Homo sapiens: one gene and its partner. The protein of the gene in region 2 interacts with the protein of the main gene of each other region in a biochemical or structural test. Each region holds a gene or a part of one and is shown on either strand. Other genes may lie near its edges.

Region 1 (7,562 bases), on a different chromosome or scaffold from region 2:
AGCTGCTCTGGGCAGGGGGAAAATGTGCTCATCTCAGGAAGCTGGTGTGGATGGTACTGGACCTGGCTAGGCCTGATACTGACCAGCAGATGGGCGCTGTGTTTGTAGCCCCAGAGGTGGTAGGCCGGCAGCGGTATGGACGCCCTGTGGACTGCTGGGCCATTGGAGTCATCATGTACATCCTGTGAGTGGACAGATGGACAAGCAGGCTTGCAGTCAGATGGGGTGGGGGCATGTGTCTGTGGCCTTTCTGTGTGACCCTTCCCCCATGCAGGCTTTCAGGCAATCCACCTTTCTATGAGGAGGTGGAAGAAGATGATTATGAGAACCATGATAAGAATCTCTTCCGCAAGATCCTGGCTGGTGACTATGAGTTTGACTCTCCATATTGGGATGATATTTCGCAGGCAGGTGAGGAGGTGCCTGCCCAGCACTTGGTAGAACGCAAGGGAGTGGGGAGGGTGTCCTGCTCTCATCTTCCTCTGTGGTATTCTGCTTCTGTCCCCCAGCCCATTTATCACCTCTAGACATTGAGATGGGGTGCCCATGACTATCCCCTTCTTGGTTTTGTCCACAGCCAAAGACCTGGTCACAAGGCTGATGGAGGTGGAGCAAGACCAGCGGATCACTGCAGAAGAGGCCATCTCCCATGAGTGGTGAGCAGGGTCCAGGGGAGGGTGGGAGAGGCCAGGGTCCCCCTCACACCCAGCAGCCCCATCTTTGAGGCCTGGAAGGGGTGCAGGTACCTAGAGCTCAGGGCAGCCCAGAGGCTCTGCCTGGTAGTCCCTGGATGCCACATAGAAGGGCTGAGCAGAGTCTCCACAAAGGCTCATTCTCTCAGATCCAGACACACTTGCACCCTTTCCAGGATTTCTGGCAATGCTGCTTCTGATAAGAACATCAAGGATGGTGTCTGTGCCCAGATTGAAAAGAACTTTGCCAGGGCCAAGTGGAAGGTAAGGCTTGGATAACTCCCTTCTTGGCTCTATCCCAAGTATTGCTTCTGGCACTCAGTTTCTTGCCTGCATCACACCCCTGCAGCCACACACAAGCTTTTCTCAGGCCATCAGGTGTGGGTGTAGCCACTGTGATTACCTTAAGTAGGAGTGCTGAGCAGCTGAGTACTTGGCCCTGGGGTGGATGGAGGTGGCCGGGGGTACTATGGAAGGAGTTTGGTTTGGTCACTGCCAAGCAATGGATCCAGCAAGCCTCACCCTTAGCCTTTCTCCACTGTGCTCCTTTCAGAAGGCTGTCCGAGTGACCACCCTCATGAAACGGCTCCGGGCACCAGAGCAGTCCAGCACGGCTGCAGCCCAGTCGGCCTCAGCCACAGACACTGCCACCCCCGGGGCTGCAGGTGGGGCCACAGCTGCAGCTGCGAGTGGAGCTACCTCAGCCCCTGAGGGTGATGCTGCTCGTGCTGCAAAGAGTGATAATGTGGCCCCCGCAGACCGTAGTGCCACCCCAGCCACAGATGGAAGTGCCACCCCAGCCACTGATGGCAGTGTCACCCCAGCCACCGATGGAAGCATCACTCCAGCCACTGATGGGAGTGTCACCCCAGCCACTGACAGGAGCGCTACTCCAGCCACTGATGGGAGAGCCACACCAGCCACAGAAGAGAGCACTGTGCCCACCACCCAAAGCAGTGCCATGCTGGCCACCAAGGCAGCTGCCACCCCTGAGCCGGCTATGGCCCAGCCGGACAGCACAGCCCCAGAGGGCGCCACAGGCCAGGCTCCACCCTCTAGTAAAGGGGAAGAGGCTGCTGGTTATGCCCAGGAGTCTCAAAGGGAGGAGGCCAGCTGAGTAGGCAGCCTGGTGAGGGGGGGCAGGGGATGGGCAGGAGGGTGGGAGAGTGGATGAGGGGCTTCTCACTGTACATAGAGTCACTGGCATGATGCCCTCGCTCCCCCATGCCCCCACATCCCAGTGGGGCATAACTAGGGGTCACGGGAGAGCAGTCTCGTCTCCTGTGTGTATGTGTGTGAGTGGTGGGCAGGCCAGTGGCAGGGCCGGCCCCAGCCCCTGCATGGATTCCTTGTGGCTTTTCTGTCTTTTGCTAGCTTCACCAGTTTCTGTTCCTTGTGGGATGCTGCTCTAGGGATACTCAGGGGGCTCCTGCTCTCCTTCCCCTTCCCTTCTTGCCTCACCATTCCCCTAGGCAGGCCCTGCAGGTCCCACACTCTCCCAGGCCCTAAACTTGGGCGGCCTTGCCCTGAGAGCTGGTCCTCCAGCGAGGCCCTGTCAGCGGTCTTAGGCTCCTGCACATGAAGGTGTGTGCCTGTGGTGTGTGGGCTGCTCTAGGAGCAGATACAGGCTGGTATAGAGGATGCAGAAAGGTAGGGCAGTATGTTTAAGTCCAGACTTGGCACATGGCTAGGGATACTGCTCACTAGCTGTGGAGGTCCTCAGGAGTGGAGAGAATGAGTAGGAGGGCAGAAGCTTCCATTTTTGTCCTTCCTAAGACCCTGTTATTTGTGTTATTTCCTGCCTTTCCGAGTCCTGCAGTGGGCTGCCCTGTACCCTGAACCTCATGAGCCTCTAAGGGAAAGGAGGAACAATTAGGACGTGGCAATGAGACCTGGCAGGGCAGAGTACAAGCCCAGCACCCAGTGTCCCAGCCTTACTGGGTCCTTACCCTGGGCCAAACAGGGAGGGCTGATACCTCCTTGCTCTTCCTAGATGCCCACCTCCTACAATCTCAGCCCACAAGTCCTCTCCACCCTAGGGGGCTTGCTGCATGGCAATAACTCATAATCTGATTTGGAGGTTTGCCCTTTACAGGGGCAGATTTTCTGCTCAGTTCAACAATGAAATGAAGAGGAACTCCCTCTTTCTACAGCTCACTTCTATCAGAGGCCCAGGTGCCTCAGAGCCACATTGAGTTGCTTTTTCTGGGATGAGGAAGTAGGGTTAAACTCCCCAGTTTCCTGAGGGAGGCTCCTGACAGGTGCCCTTTGTCAGACCCTACCACAGCCTGGATAGGCAGCCACATTGGTCCTCGCCCTTGCTCGGCACTCCGTGGTGGTCCTGCCCTTCTCCCTGCATGCCTGTGGGTCTGCTCTGGTGTGTGAAGGTCGGTGGGTTAACTGTGTGCCTACTGAACCTGGCAAATAAACATCACCCTGCAAAGCCTCTGGCCACCCTCTCGCCTTTGCTTCCTCTGTCCTACTGGGGAGGAGCCCCTGGAAGGCAGTGGGGAAGGGAGAGGCTGGGAGCAGGTTCACAAGTAGTGGCTGGGAGTAGTAGTGAACAGTGCCCTGTGGATTTCTTGGGCTGAGGGTGAAGATCATCCTCACCACAGTGTATTCCTCAATGGTGGTGGTGGTGGGGGTCCTCTGAACTCTAGAAATCCATGTGAGTAGTGGGTCTTGGGCTGCATTTGGACCAAGGAATACTCCCTGGGCTGAGAGCTCAAGTAAGGGCTGCTGTTTTTGACTCCTGTTGACCGAGGAGCCTTACTCTTGATTTAGGCATAGAGCTGGAATCTACCTGGGCCAGCCACCGCAAGGACAGACCCTGCTCATAGCCAAAGATAGCTTCCCTGAGCTAGGGAGAGGGTGTAGGGTGAGCAATGCACAAAGATTCTATGCTGCTCTGTGTTGATTCCTTCTTTCTGTGAACACCTGTGCTTTCCACCTATGCCCCAAATGAAATCTCACTCTGGGTCTATTTCAGCTGGAGCAGATCAGCTTTATATTATGGGACTATGCACAGGGTTTCTTCTGGGTAGAGGGAGTAACACTGCCACAGATACTAAGCCTAAAAACCCAAAAGTTGACTTACTCCAGCCCAGGTGGGCCTGGGTGAACTCACCAGGGATGCTGCTCTCTGGGAGGACCTCAAAGATAACCTCCTCAAAGATAACTTCTCTGATGTGGGAATAATAAAAAGGATTTGTTAGTCTCTAGTCTTTGAAGCATCTGGGCCTCCAAAATTCCAACCCTACTACAGTCTCAAGCATAACTGATCCTCCTGAGAGCTAAGAGCTAAAGTCAGGGTACTGGCCCTAGTGTCTCCAAACTCAAGGATAGTCATATCTTACTTGGATGAAGCCAAGGTTGGCCTGGGGTGACCTGAGGGACTGGGGCCTATGTGTCCATCTTTCTAGAATCGCCCGGAACTGAGGACTGAGAGGGTAGGGTATTGTGGTCTATGGGAACTACAGACCATAGCGCATGGTCCATCACTGTCCAGAGCCCAAGGGACCCATCGGGACCATTGTTCTATTCCCTTGCGGCTGCGGTTTTCTCTGCCTTGGCCCAGCCTGCCTCGCGCCAGCTCTGGCATGGGACCACAATGCGCTGCCTTGCCCTGGAAAAGGGTCCAGCTGGCAGCCTCGCTGCTCCCCGCCTTGATATAATGCTGCGCTCTCAAGTGGCAGGTCGAGTCTCCCCAGAGGACGCCTGAGAGCGACCGCGCTCCGCCCAGGATTCTCTACGGCCTCGGGGCCGCTAAGCCCCGCCCATAGTTCCGCCCATCCGAGAATTTGTCCAATCCAGGCGAAGTATTCACGCTCCGCCCAAAGTTTTGTGTTGTCACTTCCGGCCCGCTCCAGGAAGTCGTGCTGCGGAGCCAAATTTGAAGCAAGCGGAGGCGCGGGGGCGCGTCTACGAAGCCGGACCTGTAGCAGTTTCTTTGGCTGCCTGGGCCCCTTGAGTCCAGCCATCATGCCTATCCGTGCTCTGTGCACTATCTGCTCCGACTTCTTCGATCACTCCCGCGACGTGGCCGCCATCCACTGCGGCCACACCTTCCACTTGCAGTGGTGAGTGACTGCAGTGTTGGGGCCCGGTGTTTGCCCGGGTACCGCTTCAGGGCCTTGAGGTGTTGGGCCTCCAGGCGGTCCAACCCCGGAATCCAGACAAGTGATGAGAACCTTCCTCCTAGACGAGGCCCCACGGGAGCTTCCCAACCTGGGCAGAAGTGGGTCAGGACAGGCTTTCTGGTAGAGGTGATAGCTGAGCTAAGCCTGAGGGGGACTAAGATGGCTCAGTGAAGATAGATGCTTCCTTGATCACCTATACAAACAGATGTGATTTCAAAACCGTTAGCCTGGGCAAGGGTGAGCTTTCACCACATCAACAAGTCCTTTTATTTCTTCCAGATAGAAACCTGCTAGGCTTCTGGCTACCCAAGAGAGTTTGCTGTGCCTTACTTGATGGTTTGGAATTATTCTACCCAGAGTCATCTCACTGTCCAGACACCCCAATGTATTCGCCATGTCAGCAAACCCGTTTAACATGGGGAAGGCAAGGAGATGCTCCCCTATCCAGGGGTCCTGCTGACCGTGTAGGGCCATTCTGTTGAGTGTACAGCTAGTGGGGAAAGATTCCCCTAGCAGATGTGGACAGGCCGGTTTGGACCTCCTAGCAAAAGAGATAAGGCAGCGTTACCCCTGGGAATGGTGGGTGATAATAATCACAGGGTCTTGTGGGGCTAAAGGCCCTAGGAAGCAGAAAGGCAGGCATGACACTGATGGCTGCTGGCTTACTTGCAAAGCTTTGTTTAGGCCTGTGTTGCTGACAGCCTGAGCCCCATGCTGAGGGAGCCACTGCTGTTTGGTTAGACTAGAAATTAAGCTCGCCTCTAAGCGTACTCTATTTTCTGTTTGCCTACTCTATTTTCTTCTATCCTTTTACTTTATTTATTTATTTTTATTTTATTTTATTTTTGAGATGGAGTCTCGCTCCTGTCGTGTAGGCTGGAGTGCAGTGGCGTGATCTCGGCTCACTGCAACCTCCACCTCCTGAGTTCAAGTGATTCTCCTTCCTCAGCCTCCCAAGTAGCTGACATTACAGGCGTGCGCCACCACGCCCAGCTAATTTTTGTGTTTTTCATAGACAGGGTTTCTCCATGTTGGCCAGGCTGGTCTCGAACTCCTGACTTCAGGTGATCCACCCACCTTGGCCTCTCAAAGTGCTAGGGCCTATCCTTTTACTTTAAACTTTTCTGTGTCCTTGTGTTTTACATGTATCCCTTGAAACAGCATTTATTTCTTTTTTTGTATATTAAAAAGTACTTTAGCTTACTGCAAAGATCTTTATTTTATTTTATTTTGAGACAGGGTCTCACTCTGTTACACAGGCTGCAGTGCAGTGGTGCCATCTCGGCTCACTGCAGCCTCTACCTCCTGGGCTAAGGTGATTCTCCCATCTTAGCCTCCCAAGTAGCTGGGACTACAGGCGCCTGCCACCATGCTTGACTATTTTTTTTTTTTTGTATTTTTAGTAGAGATGGGGTCTTGCTATGTTGCCCAGGCTGGTCTTGAACCCCTGGACTCAAGTAATCCACCCACCTCTGCCTCCCAAAGTGCTAGGATTACAGGTGTGAACCACCGCACCCAGCCTTGGAAAACAACATTTAGTTGGACTTTTAAAAATCCAGTCTGATAATCTTTGTATTTAACTGGACCATTTAGTCTACTTAAAATTGTTGCAATTACTGATTAAATAAAGAGTAAACATATTGTCTTTAGTCGATTCTGTTTTGCCTTGCCTATTATATCTTATTGTCTCCTTTCTTGCCTTGGTAGGAATTGGTTAAATATTCTGTATTTCTCCATTTTTCCCTCAGTTAGTTGGGTCGTTATATACCCCATTTCCATTTATAAGTGGTTATCCTAGAAATTAAGGTATGTATCCTTAACTTACCAATTTCAAGGTTAATCAACACCTTTCTCATTTTCCCAGGCAACTCAAAGAGCTTAGAATACTAACATTCTTTTCCCACTTCTACGTTATTGTTGAATATTTTAATTGTGTGTATGTGTGGTATTTTTTTCGTTGGTGTTATTTTTGAGACAGAGTCCTGCTCTCTTGCCCAAGCTGGTCTGCAGTGGTACAATCTCTGCTCACTGCAGCCTTGACCTCCTGGACTCAAGCGATCCTCCTGCCTCAGCCTCACAACTAGCTGGGACTACAGGTGCATGTCACCATGCCCAGCTAATTTTTGTTTTTTGTAGAGACAGGATTTCGCCATGCTGCCCAGGCTGGTTTGAAACTCCTGTACTCAAGTGATCCACCCTCCTTGGCCTGCCAAAGTGCTGGGGTTTACAGGCATGAGCCACCACGACCGGCCAATTGTATGTTTTTAAGTAAAGTTTTTGTTTGGAATAATTTTTTTTTTTTTTTGAAACAGGATCGTGCTGTGTCGCCCAGGCTGGAGTTTATAATTGTTTCTTCTTGCAGGATTGAACTTTTTTTAAATGTTCTTCTTTGTCCTTCTTTGTCTCTTGTAACTTTAATTCAAAGTCTGTCTTGCCTAATTTTTTTTTTGAGATGGAGTCTCGTTCTGTGGCCCAGACTGGAGTGCAGTGGCGCAATCTTGGCTCACTGCAACCTCTGCCTCTTGGGTTCACGTGATTCTCCTACCTCAGCCTCCCGAGTAGCTGGGATTACAGGCACACACCACTGTGCCTGGCTAATTTTTTTTGTATTTTTAGTAGAGGCAGAGTTTCACTATGTTGGCCAGACTGGTCTCAAACTCCTGACCTCGTGATCCGCCCACCTCGGCCTCCCAAAGTGCTGGGATTACAGGCGTGAGCTACCGTGCCTGGC
Region 2 (7,078 bases):
AAAGCATATAATAGGGCGAAATCTGCACAAAACCTCACAGAGAAAAAAATTGAAATTTTTGGGTCAAGTTAAATTACCAGTTCCAGTCCAGCGAGCACTTCATTCAGTCCTGGTGGCTGACCGATCCAACGGATTACCCCATAGAAAGGAGGGTTCTCCTTAACTTCAGCCAATGAGCCCACTTCTAGACCATGTGAGTTCCCAGGAGGCATGGCCAAGGGTGGACTCTCTTGGACGGGTGCAGTGTTTAGCTCTTCCATTACAGACTGGGCTGACAGAGAAAGTGGACTGTGGCCAATACTTCCATTGGTATTGGGCATCTTGGTGAGACTGAATGGTAAAGAGTGGAATCTGTTCTCGGTGGTCAGTGAGTTCACAGGAGGAGGCTGGAGTGGTGGTGAAGAACGGTCAAAGTCTGTAGATATCTCTGTAAGAGATTTTGCAGGGTCTTCTGCAACTAAAAAATTATTCCTAATTACAGAAATGTATTCAAGGATATTGACTCTGTCTTACATTTCTAAAAATTTATATACAGATCTAGTCCAACTGCCCACCTGACCTCCCTGCTATTAATAGTACTCTCATAGGCATCACAAAGTTATTATCTCCAACAGTGTTCTCGCTCCTCTCTCCACCTCCATATTTATGCACCTCAGTCAATGGCACCCAACTGTTCAAACCAAAAAAATCTATTATCAGCGGGTATCGTATACGTGATAGTCTTTGTCCAAAATACAATTAATTGAGAAGGCAGTACAAAAAGATACCGAAAACCTTAAGAAACGCTTCTATATATCTAATGGATCAAAAAAGAAATAATACGTTTTAACAATAAAGAAAAAAGAGAGAAAAAGTAACAAAGAAAGAAAGAATCCTTGTGAAACATGGCTAAATTAATACTTATAAGGGAATTTTATAGACTTCATTGCTTATTTCAGAAAAAAACAAAAGCTAAATATGAACTCAGCATACAACTTGGGAAGTTAAAAGAACAGAATAACCCTCAAAAAAGTAGAGAAGAATAAACTAAAGAACAGAAACAACAGAAGAGAGAAAACAAACATACAATAAGAAGTTCAAAGCCAGAATAAACACAAACACAGAATGTAATTTAAGAGAAACCAAACACATGATAAAGAGAGCCACAGCCAAAAGCTATTTTCTTAAAATGACTAATACAGCTGACAGGCAGGTATTGCAGATCAATGACAAAAGAATGAACTTCTTACTAAATGCTGTTGAGATAATTGGTTATCCATATTTTTAAAAAAAAATTAAACAGGAATCCTACTCATACTTTACATGAAAATCAGCTCCAGGTGCCTTAAAAACAAATGTGGCAGGCAAAACTCTAAAGGCTGGGAGACCACAGAGTCAGGCCTGTTTGCCTTTCCATTCTCATCTCATGAATGTCATGCCTCTGTCTGTGTTCTAGTCCCTGGCAAACACTAGCTTCCATTCTTCCAGGAGGACTTTCCCTATGCTATTTCTTCTCCCGAGGAAGTTCTAGCCCCTTTCACTTTGTCATCTGTCACTCCTCTGGTAAACCTAAGCATGTGTCACTGCCCCAAAGAAACACCCCTAAGACCCTGAGAAAAATCATCTTTGGTGTATTCTCACAGCATCATGCACCTTCACTGCACACACCACCAAGGCAACTCTACTGTGTCTGTGGTTGTTTGACTAATTTCTATCTCAACAACTTAACAACTGCAAACTCACAAAGGGCATGAACCATGTCTATTTTTTCTCACCATTTTCATCTTGATGCCTAAAAGAATGCCTGGCAATCATAAGCACTCAATAAATATTTGTTGAACAAATGAACAAAGAAGAGAATAAACTAGGTGAAAATGATGTCCCAGGACCAAGGGAAGATAAAATTTTTTAAAAGGGAGTGCTTTAAAGAGGTCAGGAAGGAACCAGACAGAAATCTTCCACCCTAAATAGATCAGCAGTTAAAGGAAAAGAACAAATTACTAATACATTTCTTAAACATTTTAATAATCTTAACAGCAGTACGGTTCAAACTGTGTACAATATTTTAGTTCAGCAATATTACAAAGAGCGGTCTACTTATTCTGTTTCCAAAAACTACAAATATTGATATAAAAAACCATTTTTCTCTGATGAGTTAGAAAGAAAGGATCATTATAAAGAACACTAAAATTACTGATTACCTTCATCAATGTACCATGTATTTTTTGATTTGGATTGTGGTTGTGAGTCAACAGAAGACCCATTTAAGGTATAAAATAATTCAGATCTGTTTCTATTTCCAGGGTCTGAGGTAGATCCTATAGGAACAAGAAAAGTTTCATTTAAAAATAAAGTCAATATAGCATCAAAGTTTTTTTTTAGTAAGAGAAATTATTATGAATATGATGTTAATAACTGTTTACATAACCAATAAATGTATATAAACACAATATGTTTTTTAACTGTCTTCAGCTTTTAAAAATTTGGTAACCATTTTGACAATATTAAAAATATTTTTCAGCCCAAAAGTCAAGATAGGAGGGAAACAGGAGTAAGTTAAAAGAAAAGCCCACTCATTTTTAAAAAAAATGAACTGCTTTAAGAAATTGTTCCATGTACCACAGCTTATTTCTAAATGTCAAAATCACCATTCTCCAGCTTCATTTCATAGACCCATTGGTTCACAAATTTAACCTATTATTTTAAAAGAAGGTAATCCTCAAATTCTATATATAAATCAATACACAAATTACATTTAAAAATAGTTAAGTTTTAAACATTTTGGAATTTTTGGTCATCAAATTCCTTGTGTCTTTGAAAAAATCAAGCACTATTATTTCTTACAGATTGGATTTATTATACGTGAGAGGGCGAGTGTAGCTATGCCACAGCCATTTCATGACATTACCCTGCCTCAGTATTAATTCAAGGACATACCACACACAGTGGAGGGCAGTGGGCTCTCCAGAACCCACAAAAAAGCTGATTTCCCTTTTCAAATTAAAGCAGGTAGCTGTACATTTTATAACTTTAAGATCTACTACAATACAATTAACATGCCATAGCTTAAGAAAATCTTTAGTCTGTTTCTATTTAAGTGAGAGTAGCAAGTTTGAGCTATCCTATATAGATCTATAGGTTAACATAAAAAAGACTGTTACCTATATATCCTGCAATTAATCCTAAGTCTCCCAGGCCCCAATGTCACATAAAATAATTCTTAAAGTACAATTTCCTTTTAAATGAGCCAAAATTGTAATAATTGAGGAAAAAATATTCTTTTCCTAACTCGCATCTGAGTTAACAAAAATTCTCAGAGCCTTTTTAATGAGCTCTTTGGCTTGTATAACTACTATTCTATAAATCTATGAAGTATGTGGAAGCTAACAAAAAAAAGAGCTGTAAGCTCCACACATATTGTGAGGAAGCTTCTGGGAAAGAGAAGAAATTTTTGCTTAGCAGTTTGGGATTTAATTTGTACCAAATCTAGTTAGCAAAATCCATTTAATTAACCTCTAGTATACTTTATCCTATATAACATTATCCATATAGGATTATTTTACACAGTTGCAATCCTAAACTATACATACAAATATTCCAAGTAAGGAGTTCCAAAAACCATTTGATTATAGACCAGCAAAACACACAAGACCCTATGGGGAACTCTTCCTGAGGTAAAAAAGGCTGGGAACACTTGGCTTAAGCAACAGTATTTATATACAAACTTTAGTTTCACTACTAAAAATGTTTGAAAGAAAAAAAGTCTACATACATGTTCAGAAGTAATAGCTTATAATCTTTTTTAATGCTATGGCAAGTTAGGCATTATGCAAATTACTAAAGGTTATATGCTATTAATCCATACCTGTAGCCTTTGGTTTATTATGACTGGATGAACCTTTGTCCCCAACACCTCTTGACATAAAGGCAAGTTTGGGAGGCCTCCTTTCCTGCGTCACACTCTCTGAAACAGTAAGCATGTTTTTTAAAGATAAAGGCAAATTCTTATAGAAGAGAAACAAGGAATGACAGTAACAAAATAAAAAAACCCTCTTTCCACAAAAAGGCAGAATTTTTAGTTTTACAAATGCCTTTTAAAGGCCATCAAAAGTATTGAAAAAGATAATACTATGGGGGAAAAAACCAATGCTGTATTTCAAAATGTAATTTCTATAAGAAAATACCCTCTCAAAATACAATTCAGCTAAATGCTTTAACCTCTTGAAAATTTAATCACTTGTAGTCAATTTTATTTGATCTCTTAAAACACTACAAAGAAAATCTTACTCGGTTTTTTACAGCATTTCCCAAATCAGCAGGCTTAGAACACCCCTGTGTATTATGAAGTGTTTCGAACTCAAATATTTCTTGAAGATGCTGAGATAAACAAAGATAAACAATTTCTTTACTGCACGGAACCAGAGCCTTTAATATGCTAATGTGCATTGTGAACTGCTCAGGGAGAAACAAAATAAACTTATTGATAAAAATTTTTGTGCCACTTTGCTTAGCATCTCAGATTAATATTATTTCATGAACACAGTTTGAAAAAAGCCTGGTTAGGAATATGTATCATGGTTAGGAAAGAAAGTTCTGGTTAAGAACATATATCTGTTTTTAAAAACATATATGTTAAGAATAACACAGATGTGTATACAAACACTTATACATATAAAAGAGGAAAACATAGAGAATTATGCATAGATTAAAAATACAGAAAGCCAGAGACACACAACAATAATATATTTGAAGAAAACACTCACAATTATTTCTGAAATATAGGTGTAATAAGTGTGGCAAACTTGTTTTGAATACAAAGACCACTCTAGACCTTAAAGCCCAGCAATGATCATAGAATACTCCTAAATACTGATCAAGGGAATGTAGAAGAGGCAGTGTGAAAAGTTCTTCCTTTGAAAAATTCAACAATACATCCGTGGAGTCCAACACGACACTTAGGAGTCATACCTGATAAAGCTGTGTGTCAGCAAAAACGATATCACCCACAGTGGATTTGAGGACAGAAAGAAAGAAATAGGAAAATTTTTACATTTTAAACACAAGGAAAAGACTTTTCTTAAAAAAAGAGGAAATTTACTAAATGAATTATATGTAAATACTTGGTAACTTTTTTCCATGGTTGAAAGAGGAGGGGGATGTGTTATTAAACTATATCTTAAACATCTCATAATATGATCCAATAGAATATGAAAATATTTTAATTCAAAAATTATACCAATTAACCACGATTTCGATCAAGTGATATAATAAGAGAAAAGCTATGTACTAATACTGTGGTCCCCACTTATCCACACTTTTACCTTCCACGGTATCAGTTACCCACAGTCAACCACTGTCCAAAAATATTAAATAAAAAATTGCAGAAACAGACAATTCGTAAGTTTTAAGTTGCATGCTGTTTTGAGTATTATAACGAAATCTTGCACCATCCTAATCCATAACCCCTGACGTAACCCATCCCCGTCCAGCATCTCCACACTGTGTCTACTCCCTGCCTTGTTAGTCACTTAGTAGCCACCTCAGTCATCAGATCAACTATTGCAGTATCACAGTGCTTACATTCAAGTCACCCTTATTTTACTTAATAATAGTCCTGAAGTACACGAGTAGTGATGTTGCCATATTGTTATTATTGTCTCTTCTCTGATTATTGTTTTCAATATCTTATTGTGCCTAATATATAAATTAAACTTTATCAGAGGCATGAATGTAGAGGAAAAACACAGTATACGTAGGGTTCAGTACTATCCATAGTTTCAGGTATCCACTGGGGGTCTTGGAAGTATCCCTTGATGAAAGAGGAGACCACTGTTCTTTTATGATGTTGTCATTCAGATATCTTTAAATAGCACCCATGACAGATACTTCAGAAGGAAAATCTTAGTCACTGAGAAGAGTTCCTAAATTATAGCATATAAATTTCCTAAAGAAAAACAACTCCCACTATTAACTGTAATTAACTGCATATAACATTTTTAAAGTATGTTCACATGTATACCACGATATAGATCCATTATATAGTTAGTAACCATTATAACAAATGAAGCAAGTGCTCTTCCCTTTGTTAGGCTTTGAAGGTAGCCTGGCAGGACTGGAGAGCCAACTGGATGGCCGGTGGTGACAGTTCTGCAGGTGACACTAGGGAGGAGCTCCAAAGATTAGGAATGTGAGCAGGGGGGCACTGGAGTTGGAAACTGTGGCTACCTTCTGTCAAAGGCTGTCTGAGAGGGGGTCAAATATCAGCTCTGAAGAAGAAGACATTCCATCAGAATTCTATACAGACAAAGGGGCACAAACCACCTCTAATTGCCCTCCAGCAATTACACACCAAATATTTCTTATTACTTTGTCACAACTGTGTTCATGGCCCAAAACTACTTGGGTCATGAAGCAAAGCTTTCAAAGTTAAATGAATTATAAGTGATTACCAACTCAGAAAAAGATAAATATGGGATGGAAAGCAAGGTAAGATAAATTCAGCTGGCAATTTTGTGTGATTAAAACAAACCTGATTAAAGATATTAAAAGATATAGAAGATAATTCCACCAAACAGCATGAGTAAAAATGTACAGAGCAGCCCTATTCATTCTAATCAAAAGCTGGAAACAAGCTATTCTACAGAAGAATAGAGAAACAAATTATGGTCTATTCATACAATGGAATACTACATAGCAATAAAAAAGGAACAAACTACTGATAAACAGGGCAACATGGACATTGTGTTCAGCAAAAGAAACCAAACCAAAAGTATCCATTATGTATACACAGCAAGATTGCATTTAAATGATAAAATTCACAGCTTATCCATCACTTGTTGATTTAACCAGAAAAAGAAAAATCCCTTGGAGAATCTTGAGCAGGAAATCATAACAATAAACTAGTGAACAAGTTATTGTTCAAATCAAATGAAATGTCTATGAATTTGAATGACCCAGTAAATTAAGAGAAATTGTTTAATTAATGTACCGCTTAACATCAGCAGCCACAAGAGCATAATTCAGACTCAAATGAGAATTTAACATCCACAGAAATCTTGTGAAGAAAATACAGTTTACTTGAGTAGAATGAGGTATTATT

Evidence for each region.
Region 1: the proteins of CYLD (region 2) and TRAIP interact in far-western blotting, tested with the Homo sapiens proteins (one study listed by BioGRID).

Annotation. Positions count from the first base shown.
Region 1 is NC_000003.12:49,853,565-49,861,126, reverse strand, and holds the start of TRAIP (E3 ubiquitin-protein ligase TRAIP), read left to right. Parts: upstream 1-4,562; 5' UTR 4,563-4,673; coding exon 4,674-4,771; intron 4,772-7,562. Other genes in the region: CAMKV (caM kinase-like vesicle-associated protein), read left to right, coding at 109-184, 275-411, 578-656, 869-956, 1,246-1,809. UniProt on the Homo sapiens protein: E3 ubiquitin ligase required to protect genome stability in response to replication stress.
Region 2 is NC_000016.10:50,773,044-50,780,121, reverse strand, and holds part of CYLD (ubiquitin carboxyl-terminal hydrolase CYLD), read right to left. Parts: intron 4,957-7,078; coding exon 4,948-4,956; intron 3,944-4,947; coding exon 3,845-3,943; intron 2,298-3,844; coding exon 2,181-2,297; intron 458-2,180; coding exon 78-457; intron 1-77. UniProt on the Homo sapiens protein: Deubiquitinase that specifically cleaves 'Lys-63'- and linear 'Met-1'-linked polyubiquitin chains and is involved in NF-kappa-B activation and TNF-alpha-induced necroptosis.